Homo sapiens: one gene and its partners. The protein of the gene in region 1 purifies or fractionates together with the protein of each later gene. This does not show direct contact. Each region holds a gene or a part of one and is shown in the gene's direction. Other genes may lie near its edges.

Region 1 (3,654 bases):
CGCCACCACACCCGGCTAATTTTTTGTATTTTTTTAGTAGAGATGGGGTTTCACCGTGTTAGCCAGGATGGTCTTGATCTCCTGACCTCATGATCCACTCGCCTCGGCCTCCCAAAGTGTTGGGATTACAGGCGTGAGCCACCGCGCCCTGCCCCAATCAACAAATGTTTACTGAGCATCTACCATGGACCAGGCCCTAGTCTGGGCACTGAGGGGGAGAAAGGACAAGACTACATTCCAGCCATCGAGCAGCTCACAGACCAATGGAGGAGGCTGACGTGGACAGGCTGTTACTGTGCTGCAGTAGCTGAGGACTCGATGGGTGTGGTGTGGCCACTCTTGCCAGGTTATGAAGCAGAAAAGGAGGCAGGGAGATTTCACTGAGGGCTCAAGGGGAGGTGATAATTTAACTACAGCTTACGTACTCTATACAAAGAAGTGCAGAGGGCACTCTAAAAATGGGAACAACTTGTGCAAAGGAAGCAAATACATTATTGCAAAGGGTTTATATGTCAACCATGGTAGTGTTGGGCAAAAGGTAACAGGATCTGCTATGTGTTTCGGAGGGTCATCCTGGTGGATAATTTCTGTATATGTGAGACCTTGGGGAGGAAGGCTTAGGACCAGTGGACATGAAATTTCAATCTATTAATCATGAAGTTTGTCAAAGACAAACACAATTCCTTGCGCCTGGTGAAGATGACTGACTGATTCAGGCAGAGTGGCTTGCTCTAGACAGACTGAATTAACCTCCTGCATTTTTTGGATAGAATACCCACGAACAGTTCTGTTTTCTCAGTTCATTTATTTTACTTTTAAAAATTTGGCCAGGTGATTTGGCTCACACCTGTAATCCCAGTGCTTTGGGAGGCCAAGGCAGGTGGATCACTTGAGGCTAGGAGTTCGAGACCAGCCTGGCCAAAATGGCGAAACCCCGTCTTTACTAAAAATACAAAAATGAAAAAAAAAAAAAGCCAGGTGTGGTGGTGCACCTGTAATCCCAGCTACTTGGGAGACCAAGGCATAAGAATTGCTTGGACCCGGGAGGTGGAGGTTGCCAGTGAGCCAAGATAGCACCACTGTATTCCAGCCTGGGCAACAGAGCGAGACCGTCTACAAAAAAAAAAAAAAAATTACTGAGTTAATCACACTCCTCAGTTCATGATACATTTAACTGGTCCATGCAGGGCCTTTTTCTCCTTTGTATTTATATTCCCTTTTGTCCCTATTCTTCCCCTCTCTTCTCACCACAGGAAACCATTCTGATGTGTTTGGTGTATATCTTCTTTTTGTTTTTTGTTTTTTTGAGACAGGGTCTCACTCTTGCTCAGGCTGGAATGCAGTGGCATAATCATGGCTGACTGCAGCCTTGACCTCCCGGGCTCAAGCAGTCCTCCGTCCCACCTCAGCCTTCTGAGGAGCTGGGACCACAGGCGTGTGCCACCATGCCCAGGTAAATTTGCCGTGTTGCCCAAGCTAGTCTCAAACTCCTGAGCTCAGCAGTCTGCCTGCCTTGACCTCCCAAAATGCTGAGATTACAGGTGTGAGCCACTGCTCCCAGCCTATATGCATATACTTTTAATTTACATAAATGGATTCTGCCTAGACCTCATTTTTTTCCACCTCAGTGCCATGTGTGGAGCTTGTCGATGTTGCTCTGGGTATATTTGGGATGCAGTTTCTAAATGCTCCACAGGTTTCCATAGATGCATCCCCCACATTTTACTTACTTGATTCCTCTAGTGATGAGGTCCCTAGATTGTTTCCCACTCCTTGCTACAATGCAATCCCGTACCCATCTCCTTCCTCAGCTTTGTAAATAGAATTTTATCGCTTCTCAGCCTTTTCGCTGAGATCAAGTGTAGTAAATACAATTTCAAGATGCTGATTTGAGCTTGGCTTTGATAAGCCTGGTAGCTCTTGGTGTCTGACAGGGCCGGATTGTTTGACCTTCGTGAGGTCCTGGCTTTTTTGAGCCATGTTTATTTTTGATAAATTGTGATTCTAGTTCCCAGACACTCTTGGCCAACATTCTAGTGTCCTGCCATCTTCCCCAGTTGATCATTCTCACGAGCTCTGTGGTTAATTTTCTGTTTCTCATCATCATTAATGGTTGCTGTACACTCATTCCAACACAGATATTTGCTCTTTCCTTTCCTGGTGAAACAGTGGCCTGTGAAGCTGGTCCTGGGAGTACCTGTGATGTGAAGTACGTAGAGAAGGACTCTGAGGCCAGAGCCAGACTGTCTGGCTTCAGTTCAGTTCCCAGCTCCTCCACTTCCCAGACGCCTGACCTTGGGCAACTGATTTAATCTTTGTGTCTCATTTTCTCATCTGCAAAGTGGGTCTAATCATTGTACCTACCTCATAGTGTTTTCGTGAGCATTAGGTAAATGAATTAATGTATGCAAAGTCATTAGAACGGTGCCTGGCACATAACAGGCTCCTATTTGGAATGTCAGCTGTTAATAATAGCAATAATAATAATTACGTCATTTCAGATAGGAGACCCTGTTATATTTTGCCATAATGGGTCACATTCAGTTGCAGGGTGTTTGTTCAGAGGGGATGGTGGGGGGTGGGTGGCATAGCTTCTGGACTCTCTGACTATAGATTCCAGCGTAATAGCATTAGCTGTAAGGAAAAAGGGAAGAAACACAGCCCCCAAGGCCCTGGGTGCCTTTTCACTGTCACTTGTTGCCTGTCAGGTTGGGAGACAGTGGCTACAGATGGGTCAAGGTGCTGAGGCCGGGACTCATGCTGGTGGGAATGAGGGAATGAGTGAAGAGAGCCTGTGAAACTGGGAGGATCTTGGTGGTCACCTTGGACATAGGATTCTCTTTCTCTTTGATGTTCCTCTGTACCCTTCTTGAGAATGGGCATTGGGCTAGATCAGCTCTGTCACTGACATTCTGAGGTTTGCCCACGTGTTCAGTGTCAAAGGCTGCTCTGAAATGGAAAGGAGCAGTGGCCCAGGGTAGAAAGGACACAGAAGGAAGCCCCAGTGGTAGGGAGAGGAGATAGGACAAGAAAAGTCAACTTTCTTTCAATGGTATAATGAGGAGGGAAGGTTGTGTTGCAGCAAGAGAGGTTCTGGTCTGGTGGGGGAGGCAGGCCCAGTGACCAAAACTGAAATAGAAGGGTGCAAAGTGAGAGTAGAGGGAGCTAGGTGGGCACAGGCTAGAGACAGCTGCTGAAGACGCTGACGTCTGAGCTAACTCAGAAGTGATGGGCCAGCCTCTCAAGTAGTCGAGGAGGTAAGGGTGATGGAGAGCAGGCCAGGTGAGGAAGCAGCATGTACCAGGGCACGCAGCTATGAGACAGCAAGGGTTCTGTGCCTGTCCTCGGGTGTGCGGCGGGTGAGGGTGAGGCAGGAGTGCTGGGCAAGTCCGTCAGGCCAGCATGGTTGGCAGTTATTCCCCAAGCTGTGTTTCCAAATATCAGCCACTCAAGGACGGCCTTTATGGTTTATGTTACTATAGTACGTAGAAAAGCAGTTCCTCTAACTGTAAGAATGTGGCCATAATAACTCTATGAAAATACACGGGCCGGGCATGGTGGCTTATGCCTATAATCCCAGCACTTTGAGAGGCCAAGGTGGAAAGATCGTTTGAGCCCAGGAGTTTGAGACCAGCCAGGGCAACACAGAGAGAC
Region 2 (3,754 bases), on another chromosome or scaffold:
AGGATCAAGCCTTGATGTCACATTCTATTTGCATTTATATTAGCCGGATTCAACTACATGCCCTTACCCAATAAAAAGGGTGGGTGAGGAAGAGAAAAGCAATTTAAAAGGCGAGGCTTAGCCAGGGGTGAGCATCAAGTGCGAAACGCTAATTCGATGTTCGTTTGGTTGCCATTCCTATGAGCAGCTCACTGTAGCGTTTGTGATTATAGTATTTATATACTGAACAAGTACTTTTTATATGAATTGTGTAACTGCACATATTGTGCATTTCTATATAAATGTGATAGGGTCGATTGTTTACATAAAACAAGTTTGAGTTTTGGGCAGTTCTCATCAAAGGTAATTTATATAAAGAGTGAGTTTTCATTTGACTTCAGAGTCTAATTCCCAGGTAATTGGGACTCCAGTCTAGTTTAGAAGTCTGTGCTGTGCTGTTTGGCCCTGCAAGGTTCAGGGACTTTTAGTCACATATTTCAAACTAGTTTAGGAAGATGAGGGCAGTGCCACAAAAAGTAGATTAAAGAGTAGTTTAGATAGGGAGACTTGCAATGAGGGCCAGGACTCTTACAGCAAGAATGTAAAGGAAGCAATGAAAAGCATTCATATTTAAGACTCAGTCTGTTTCTTTGCCCTTAGAAAATTTATTAATTTGTTAAGGACCAATACTGAAGTTTGGGAATAGGAGTAGTGTCCTCAGTGTTGTAGTTCTCCGGAATTTAGGATTTGTATATAAATGTGAATTTTCTTTGGTTAATGTGTTATATTTTCATTGGTTCTACAAAATTCATTTAGCTCCGTTGGTAAAAGTAACTTAGTAATAATGCTGGAATTGTAAGGAAAATTATGGTTTACTATAAATGTCTTTTTGAAGTTATATTGTAGGTAATCATTAAGACCTAATTATTAGATGATACTAATCTTTAAAGTGACCAGTTTTCTTACAATTTAGTTTCTTGAGTTCTTCAAGGGAATTTAATTGTTGAGCACCATTATCTATAGACACATATACTCTTACATATTGTGCTATATTATGTAGATTCAGCCATAAATAGTGCTTAATCTTATTAATATAAATGTATGCGATTCCTGTAAAATTAATGACACAATTATTAAACTGCTATAGATGGGCATGTATATGTTTATAAATACCATGCTATATTATGTAGGTCCATCTATATAGTGTTATGAAAATTTCATACATCCAAAAAAGTTAAAGATGCATCGCCAGATGCTTCCTTTGGCCAAAATAAAATTAAAAAAATATTCCCTGTAGATGTTTGTCTTTGAGCACGGTCTTCCCTGTGAACCCTCAAGACACCACACTTTCTCATCAATCTATGTGCCCTTTTTTGCACACGTTTATTCTTAATCCTGTTTTTGTTTTCTCTTCTACCTTTAAGTCCTGAATTTGCTTCTTTCTGATATTGTGCTTTTTCCCTTTTGGAAATTTCCTCTTCTTTCTTCCACCATCAAATTGCATCCTCTGAACCAAGAGTGGAGTTAAACCATATGAAGCCTTCCTAGCCATGTGTCAACTGTTTTTGCCCTTTGTTGTCAACTGTGCCTATAAAGAACTGATTAGTAATTTTATTGATTAGTTTGGACATTGCCTTCTCATAAAGAGAAATTACCAGCTTCTGAGTCTGGCCACTTTTACCATTAGTTCATTTTTTTCCATCTCTGGCAAGGAACAAATTTTGTTAATTATTGCATTTGTACTACAAATGTCTGACAAAGAAACTTATGATATGCAGGACCCTGAAAATTTATTGGCATTTTTTTAAATGTCTGAACTGTCCACTGTAAATTAGCACCTCCAAAACTGTGGGGTGGCTCTGCTGTATGTTCTCTCACTGTCACCACCACCACTTACTCCCCACCAGCCCAAATAACATTACCTATATATGCCTTGGAGATGGCTAGGCAGCCTGTTTGGTCCTATCCACAGAGGTGGAAGAACCCATCAGTGGAAACTTGTAATGAAAACCTGGTGCCTTTTTTAGTTTTAGTTAGTATCAACTGACTTTGATCAACCAGAAGGGAAATAATTCCTTACTCTCCACTCCAAATATCAGATAAAAAATTGTACCTTTCCCATCATAGTTAATATGGAAGTATTTTAGTATCTGATACTTTAAAAGTCTGATTCTGCCAGAGTTTATCTTATAGTTGAATACACAATACCCACACTACCTTGTCAGAATAGTATGTCCAAGGCGGCATCTGTCTTTTGCTTAGAAACCTTCATTTGCTGATATTTCAGAGTGGTATGGGAGTGGTAGTTTTTAAAGTCATTGCAGTATTCTCCTGATTGAAATGTTTTTTAAAATGTCTTGCTAATTGCTGTTCTCATTTTTAAATTATTTTTCCTCAGAAACCCACAATCTGCCAAAGCAACCTCCACTTGCCCTAGCAATGGGACAGGCCACACAATGTCTAGGACTGATGGCTCGATCAGGAATTGGATCCTGCGCATTTGCCACAGTGGAAGACTACCTACATTAGCTATGCATTTCAAGAGCTCACACTTATATTGTGGCATATAGTCAACATGGAAGTAGACCAGCTCTGCTGATTTGAAATTTAGATTTTTTAAATTATGTACTGGGGACAGGTTTTTGTCGCTTTACATTGCTTCCTAGTTTACAGCATGATGCAAATGATTTTCTAACTTAGTGTTAGGAGAAATTATTTTCCATCTTTAACCTCTTAGTTGTCTAAGAGTTAAATATTACTGAATTTCAGACGTTCAAATTGATCATCACAAATCCTTTAAAACAATTACCTAAAAGAAACCAAAAATCCTGCCTTCTTTGTGGGGGAGGGGGGAGAGAGGGGAAGGAAATGGAACAAGTTGTGTTTGTGTTAGCATGTGGGTGATGTAAACTTCAAATTGGGAGATGTTCCGACCCCCACTCCCATATAAGCATTCAATCAGTGTAACTTGCAAAATGCATAAACATCCGACAGTTTGAATTTATAGTGTTGATGGAAGAAATCATTTTTAATGTGTACTGTAAAACTTGAAATACTCAGGAGCTGAGTGAATATGTTTGTTGCTACTTACAATCCCGACCTGTTAGTCCCAGTAGTTTTGTTTTAACATGGTCTTTTTCAACTTTGTTTCCTGTTTAACTACAGATGACTTCTGTTGTAGACTCACAAGTTTAACTGTTGTATTATAACAGTATTACATGTCAACGGTGTGGTTATGACCTTTATTTATATAAAAACCAAATATTTAGTCAATTTACCGTGTCTTAATTTAATCTTTGTACACCTTCCATTTTTAAGTGCTTAAATGAGTACTATATTGCAATAAAATGTAGTGATATAATTAACCAGCCATTAAAAATTTACTTCTACAGATACAGTGTCAATTGAGTTTATATATTAGGTACTTGCATACTTTTTATGATTACTATGAAAATTAGAGCAATTAAAATTAATGGTTTCTACAATTAATCTGAGTTCTACAACCTAAAATTGCCTTCAGTTTACTGGCATCCCTGGATTAGGGTTAGACCTGATATTGTGGCTGACACAGAAAGGCAACAGGAAATTAACTTCATTATTTTCATATTCATAATATGGCATATGAGACTCACCAGGCAAGCAAATCCCCAGACTGGTTAAAAGTAAAAATTTAAAAGCTGTTAGCTATATTTTGTGCACTGAATCTTTAATAGCAAATTGTCTACAGGCTGCAGTTAGAGACTTTGCTGGAATATCCATTTCTCCTTTTAGTCCG
Region 3 (3,077 bases), on another chromosome or scaffold:
CTCTCCTCTCCAGAACCTCCCACATCATGGGGATGTATGTTGGGATCACGCCTCCCGCCATCTCTGTATGTCCCCTCCTCAAGGCTGTGACAGCAGCTCAACCCTTGGCTGTGCTGGGAGATGAACCTGCTCCCGCTCCCAGCCCTGCCAGGCAAGGACTCCGAGTGAAGCTTGTTTGGCCACAGAGCTGCTTGCCTTTTTCCCTGACCATCAGAAGGGAGGCCAGAGCTGACAGAACCTAGGAGTCAGAGACAAAGAACTGGGCACTCCTAGATCCTTCTGGATTGGTCGGTTAACTGCTGGGTTCCTTTGGACAAGTCACTTGGCCTCTCTGAGCCTCAGTTTCCTCTCTGGCCAACTGAGTGTCGCCCCATCTCACAGGGCTTAGGGGAGGTGGCACATGCGTAAAGTCCCGTCAATGCTAAGGTGCTCTGCGGAAGTGAGAGTTGATGTCAGAGAGTAAGGGTGGGTGGGAGGCAGAGGGAGCCGGGGAAGGATGAGCTGGGGCCGGACAGGCCAGATGAACCCACTGCCAGAGGCGGGCATCAAAGGGCCAAATGGGAGGCCCACGCCTGGGAAGCTGTCTCACCACACCCGCTGTACACGGGCGGCTGAGGACTCAGGGTCCTGCCATCCCAAGGACTCACAATGTGCTTATTCCACAGGCATTTTTCACTCTCGCCAGAGATATCAAAGCAAAAATGGACAAAAAATTGGTGAGTGTGTGTCCTTCCGAGATCCCCGGGTGGATCTCTGGGATCCAGCCATCGTCGTTAGCAGCAGTGATATGACGTGCCCTAGATCCTGCTTTTTAGGGCCCAGCCAGACCCCATGGGACATTGCTGGGAAAGGGGGAAGAGTTTGCAGGTGTGGCTGGGGCATCAGCATCAGGCAGTGCCAGCCTGGGGACGCTGCCCAAGCAGACAAGGCCGTGCCCGGTGAATCCCCAGGCTAGCAGGGAGCACACGGCCTTTTCCATTCCACTCAAGGGCCAGAAAGACAACATGGTGTGCAAGGACAGAGAGCCATGGCTCGGAGAAAAGCTTCCTAGGTCGCTTGGGCAGGGCCAGGGCTGGTGTCTGATAACTGCTGGCTCATCGTCTTGACAAGCATGGCAGATCAAGAACCTGCCCCCGCTCCACCCCAGCCCCAGATGCTACAAGTTGTGACAGCTCTGCAACCTTCATTGTGTCCCAGGGTTCTCTGAGGCCTCCAGGGAAGTCTGCATGAATCCCTACCCATCTACCCTCTCATTCGTTTCTTGCTTTTTTTTTTTTACCACGTTAGCGATTTCCTAGTCCGCTGCGCTCAGTATCAATGGTGCTTTCTTGATGGAATCAAACACTTCCCTGTACTTTGGGGGCATTTAGTGCCTAAACACCGTAGTGACCCTTCCTCCCTCGCCCTGGTTCCAGCAACTGCCCTTTCCCGGCCATGTTACATTGGTTGTCCAATCGAGGAGCACACGGCGCTCTATTTGTGGGTTAAGTCTGGTCACTTGAGAATGCACATAAAATACAAAATGCCGTTCAAGTTTTACATCTGATGTAAGCAAATCTGTTTTGTAATTCTAAGATGCGGTGTGTTGAACAGTGAGGCATGTGATTGATTTAATAGCAGCTCTTTGGCCATTAAATTAAAATGGGAAACAGTTCATGGAAACCAGTGCACTGACCAACAATAATTTGGGATTTTCTTGCAATTTTTTTTCTTCAGTATAATGGTCAAGGTCTGATTCTTTTTTCTTTTAGTTTTCTTATTAGTTAAAAAAGAGATTTTTTTTTTAGAGTCTCACTTTGCCACCTAGGCTGGAGTGCAGTGGCACCATCACAGCTCACTGCAGCCTTCAACTCCTGGGCTCAAGCAATCCTCCCACCTCCGCCTCCCAAGTAGCTGGGGCTATAAGCACACACCACCATGCCTGGCTAATTTTTTTTCTTTTTCTTTTTTTTTGAGAAGGAGTCTCGCTCTGTTGCCCAGGCTAGAGTGCAATGGTGCAATCCCTGCTCACTGCAACCTCTGCCTCCCAGGTTCAAGCGGTTCTTCTGACTCAACCTCCCGAGTACTTGGGATTACAGGCACATGTCACCACGCCCAGCTAATTTTTGTATTTTTAGTAGAGACGAGGCTTCACCATGTTGGTCAGGCTGGTCTTGAACTCCTGACCTCAGGTGATCCACCTGCCTCGGCCTCCCAAAGTGTTGGGATTACAGGTGTGGGCCACCCCGCCTGGCCATTTTTTCTTTTTTAAGAGGCAGGATCTCACTTGTTACCCAGGCTGGACTCAAACTCCTGGGCTCAAGCAGTTCTTCTGCCTCAGCCTCCCAAAGTGCTGGGAAGGGTATGATGGGGTGGGCAGATAAGTGAGAGAGTGGTTGGAAGGGGTGGTATATAGCAGATGGAAAATAGATCTGTTTCTGAAAAACGAATTATCAGTTGTAAGAGAATTGGATGGATGGGTAGAAGATAATGGATGGATGGTTGGTTGAAAGGGAATAAATCGATGGTTGATTTGTTGGAAGGAGATGGTTGGATAGATAGATGATTGGTTTGTTGGTTGGTTGGAAGGGGATGGATGAATGGTTGGTTGGAAGGAGGTGGTTGCTTGGAAGGGGATGGATGGATGGTTGATTGGTCAGAAGGGGTGGTTAGAAGGAGATGGTTAGTTGGAAGAGGGTGGATGGGGGGAAGGAGATGGATGGGTGGATGGATGGTTGGAAAGGGATGGATGGATGGTTGGTTGGATGAGGTGGTTAGAAGGGGATGGATGGTTGGTTGGTTGGTTGGAAGGGGATGGATGGTTGGAAGAAGATGGATGGTTGGAAAGGGATGGATGAGTGGATGGTTCTTGGTTGGAAGGGATGGATGGTTGGTTGATTGGTTTGTTGGTTGGAAGCAGGTGGATAGACGGATGGAAGGGAATGGGTGAGTGGATGGATGGATGGTTGAAAGGGTATAGATGGATGGTTGGTTGGTTGGTTGGTTGGTTGGTTGGTTGGTTGGTTGGTTGGATGGTTGGAAGGGGACAGCTGGACGGACTGGCAGATGATGGATGGATGGTTTGATGGCTGATTGGT

The links.
Region 2: the proteins of RMND5B (region 1) and RANBP9 purify together in Homo sapiens (affinity purification with mass spectrometry; 2 studies listed by BioGRID and IntAct, with this or other methods). This does not show direct contact.
Region 3: the proteins of RMND5B (region 1) and RAB8A purify together in Homo sapiens (affinity purification with mass spectrometry, with the first as the bait; one large-scale study listed by BioGRID). This does not show direct contact.

Annotation. Positions count from the first base shown.
Region 1 is NC_000005.10:178,133,860-178,137,513, forward strand, and holds part of RMND5B (E3 ubiquitin-protein transferase RMND5B), read left to right. Parts: intron 1-1,310; exon of another isoform or gene 1,311-1,353; coding exon of another isoform or gene 1,354-1,453; intron 1,454-3,654. UniProt on the Homo sapiens protein: Core component of the CTLH E3 ubiquitin-protein ligase complex that selectively accepts ubiquitin from UBE2H and mediates ubiquitination and subsequent proteasomal degradation of the transcription factor HBP1.
Region 2 is NC_000006.12:13,621,116-13,624,869, reverse strand, and holds the end of RANBP9 (ran-binding protein 9), read left to right. Parts: intron 1-2,377; coding exon 2,378-2,508; 3' UTR 2,509-3,372; downstream 3,373-3,754. UniProt on the Homo sapiens protein: May act as scaffolding protein, and as adapter protein to couple membrane receptors to intracellular signaling pathways. Acts as a mediator of cell spreading and actin cytoskeleton rearrangement.
Region 3 is NC_000019.10:16,128,889-16,131,965, forward strand, and holds part of RAB8A (ras-related protein Rab-8A), read left to right. Parts: intron 1-665; coding exon 666-716; intron 717-3,077. UniProt on the Homo sapiens protein: The small GTPases Rab are key regulators of intracellular membrane trafficking, from the formation of transport vesicles to their fusion with membranes.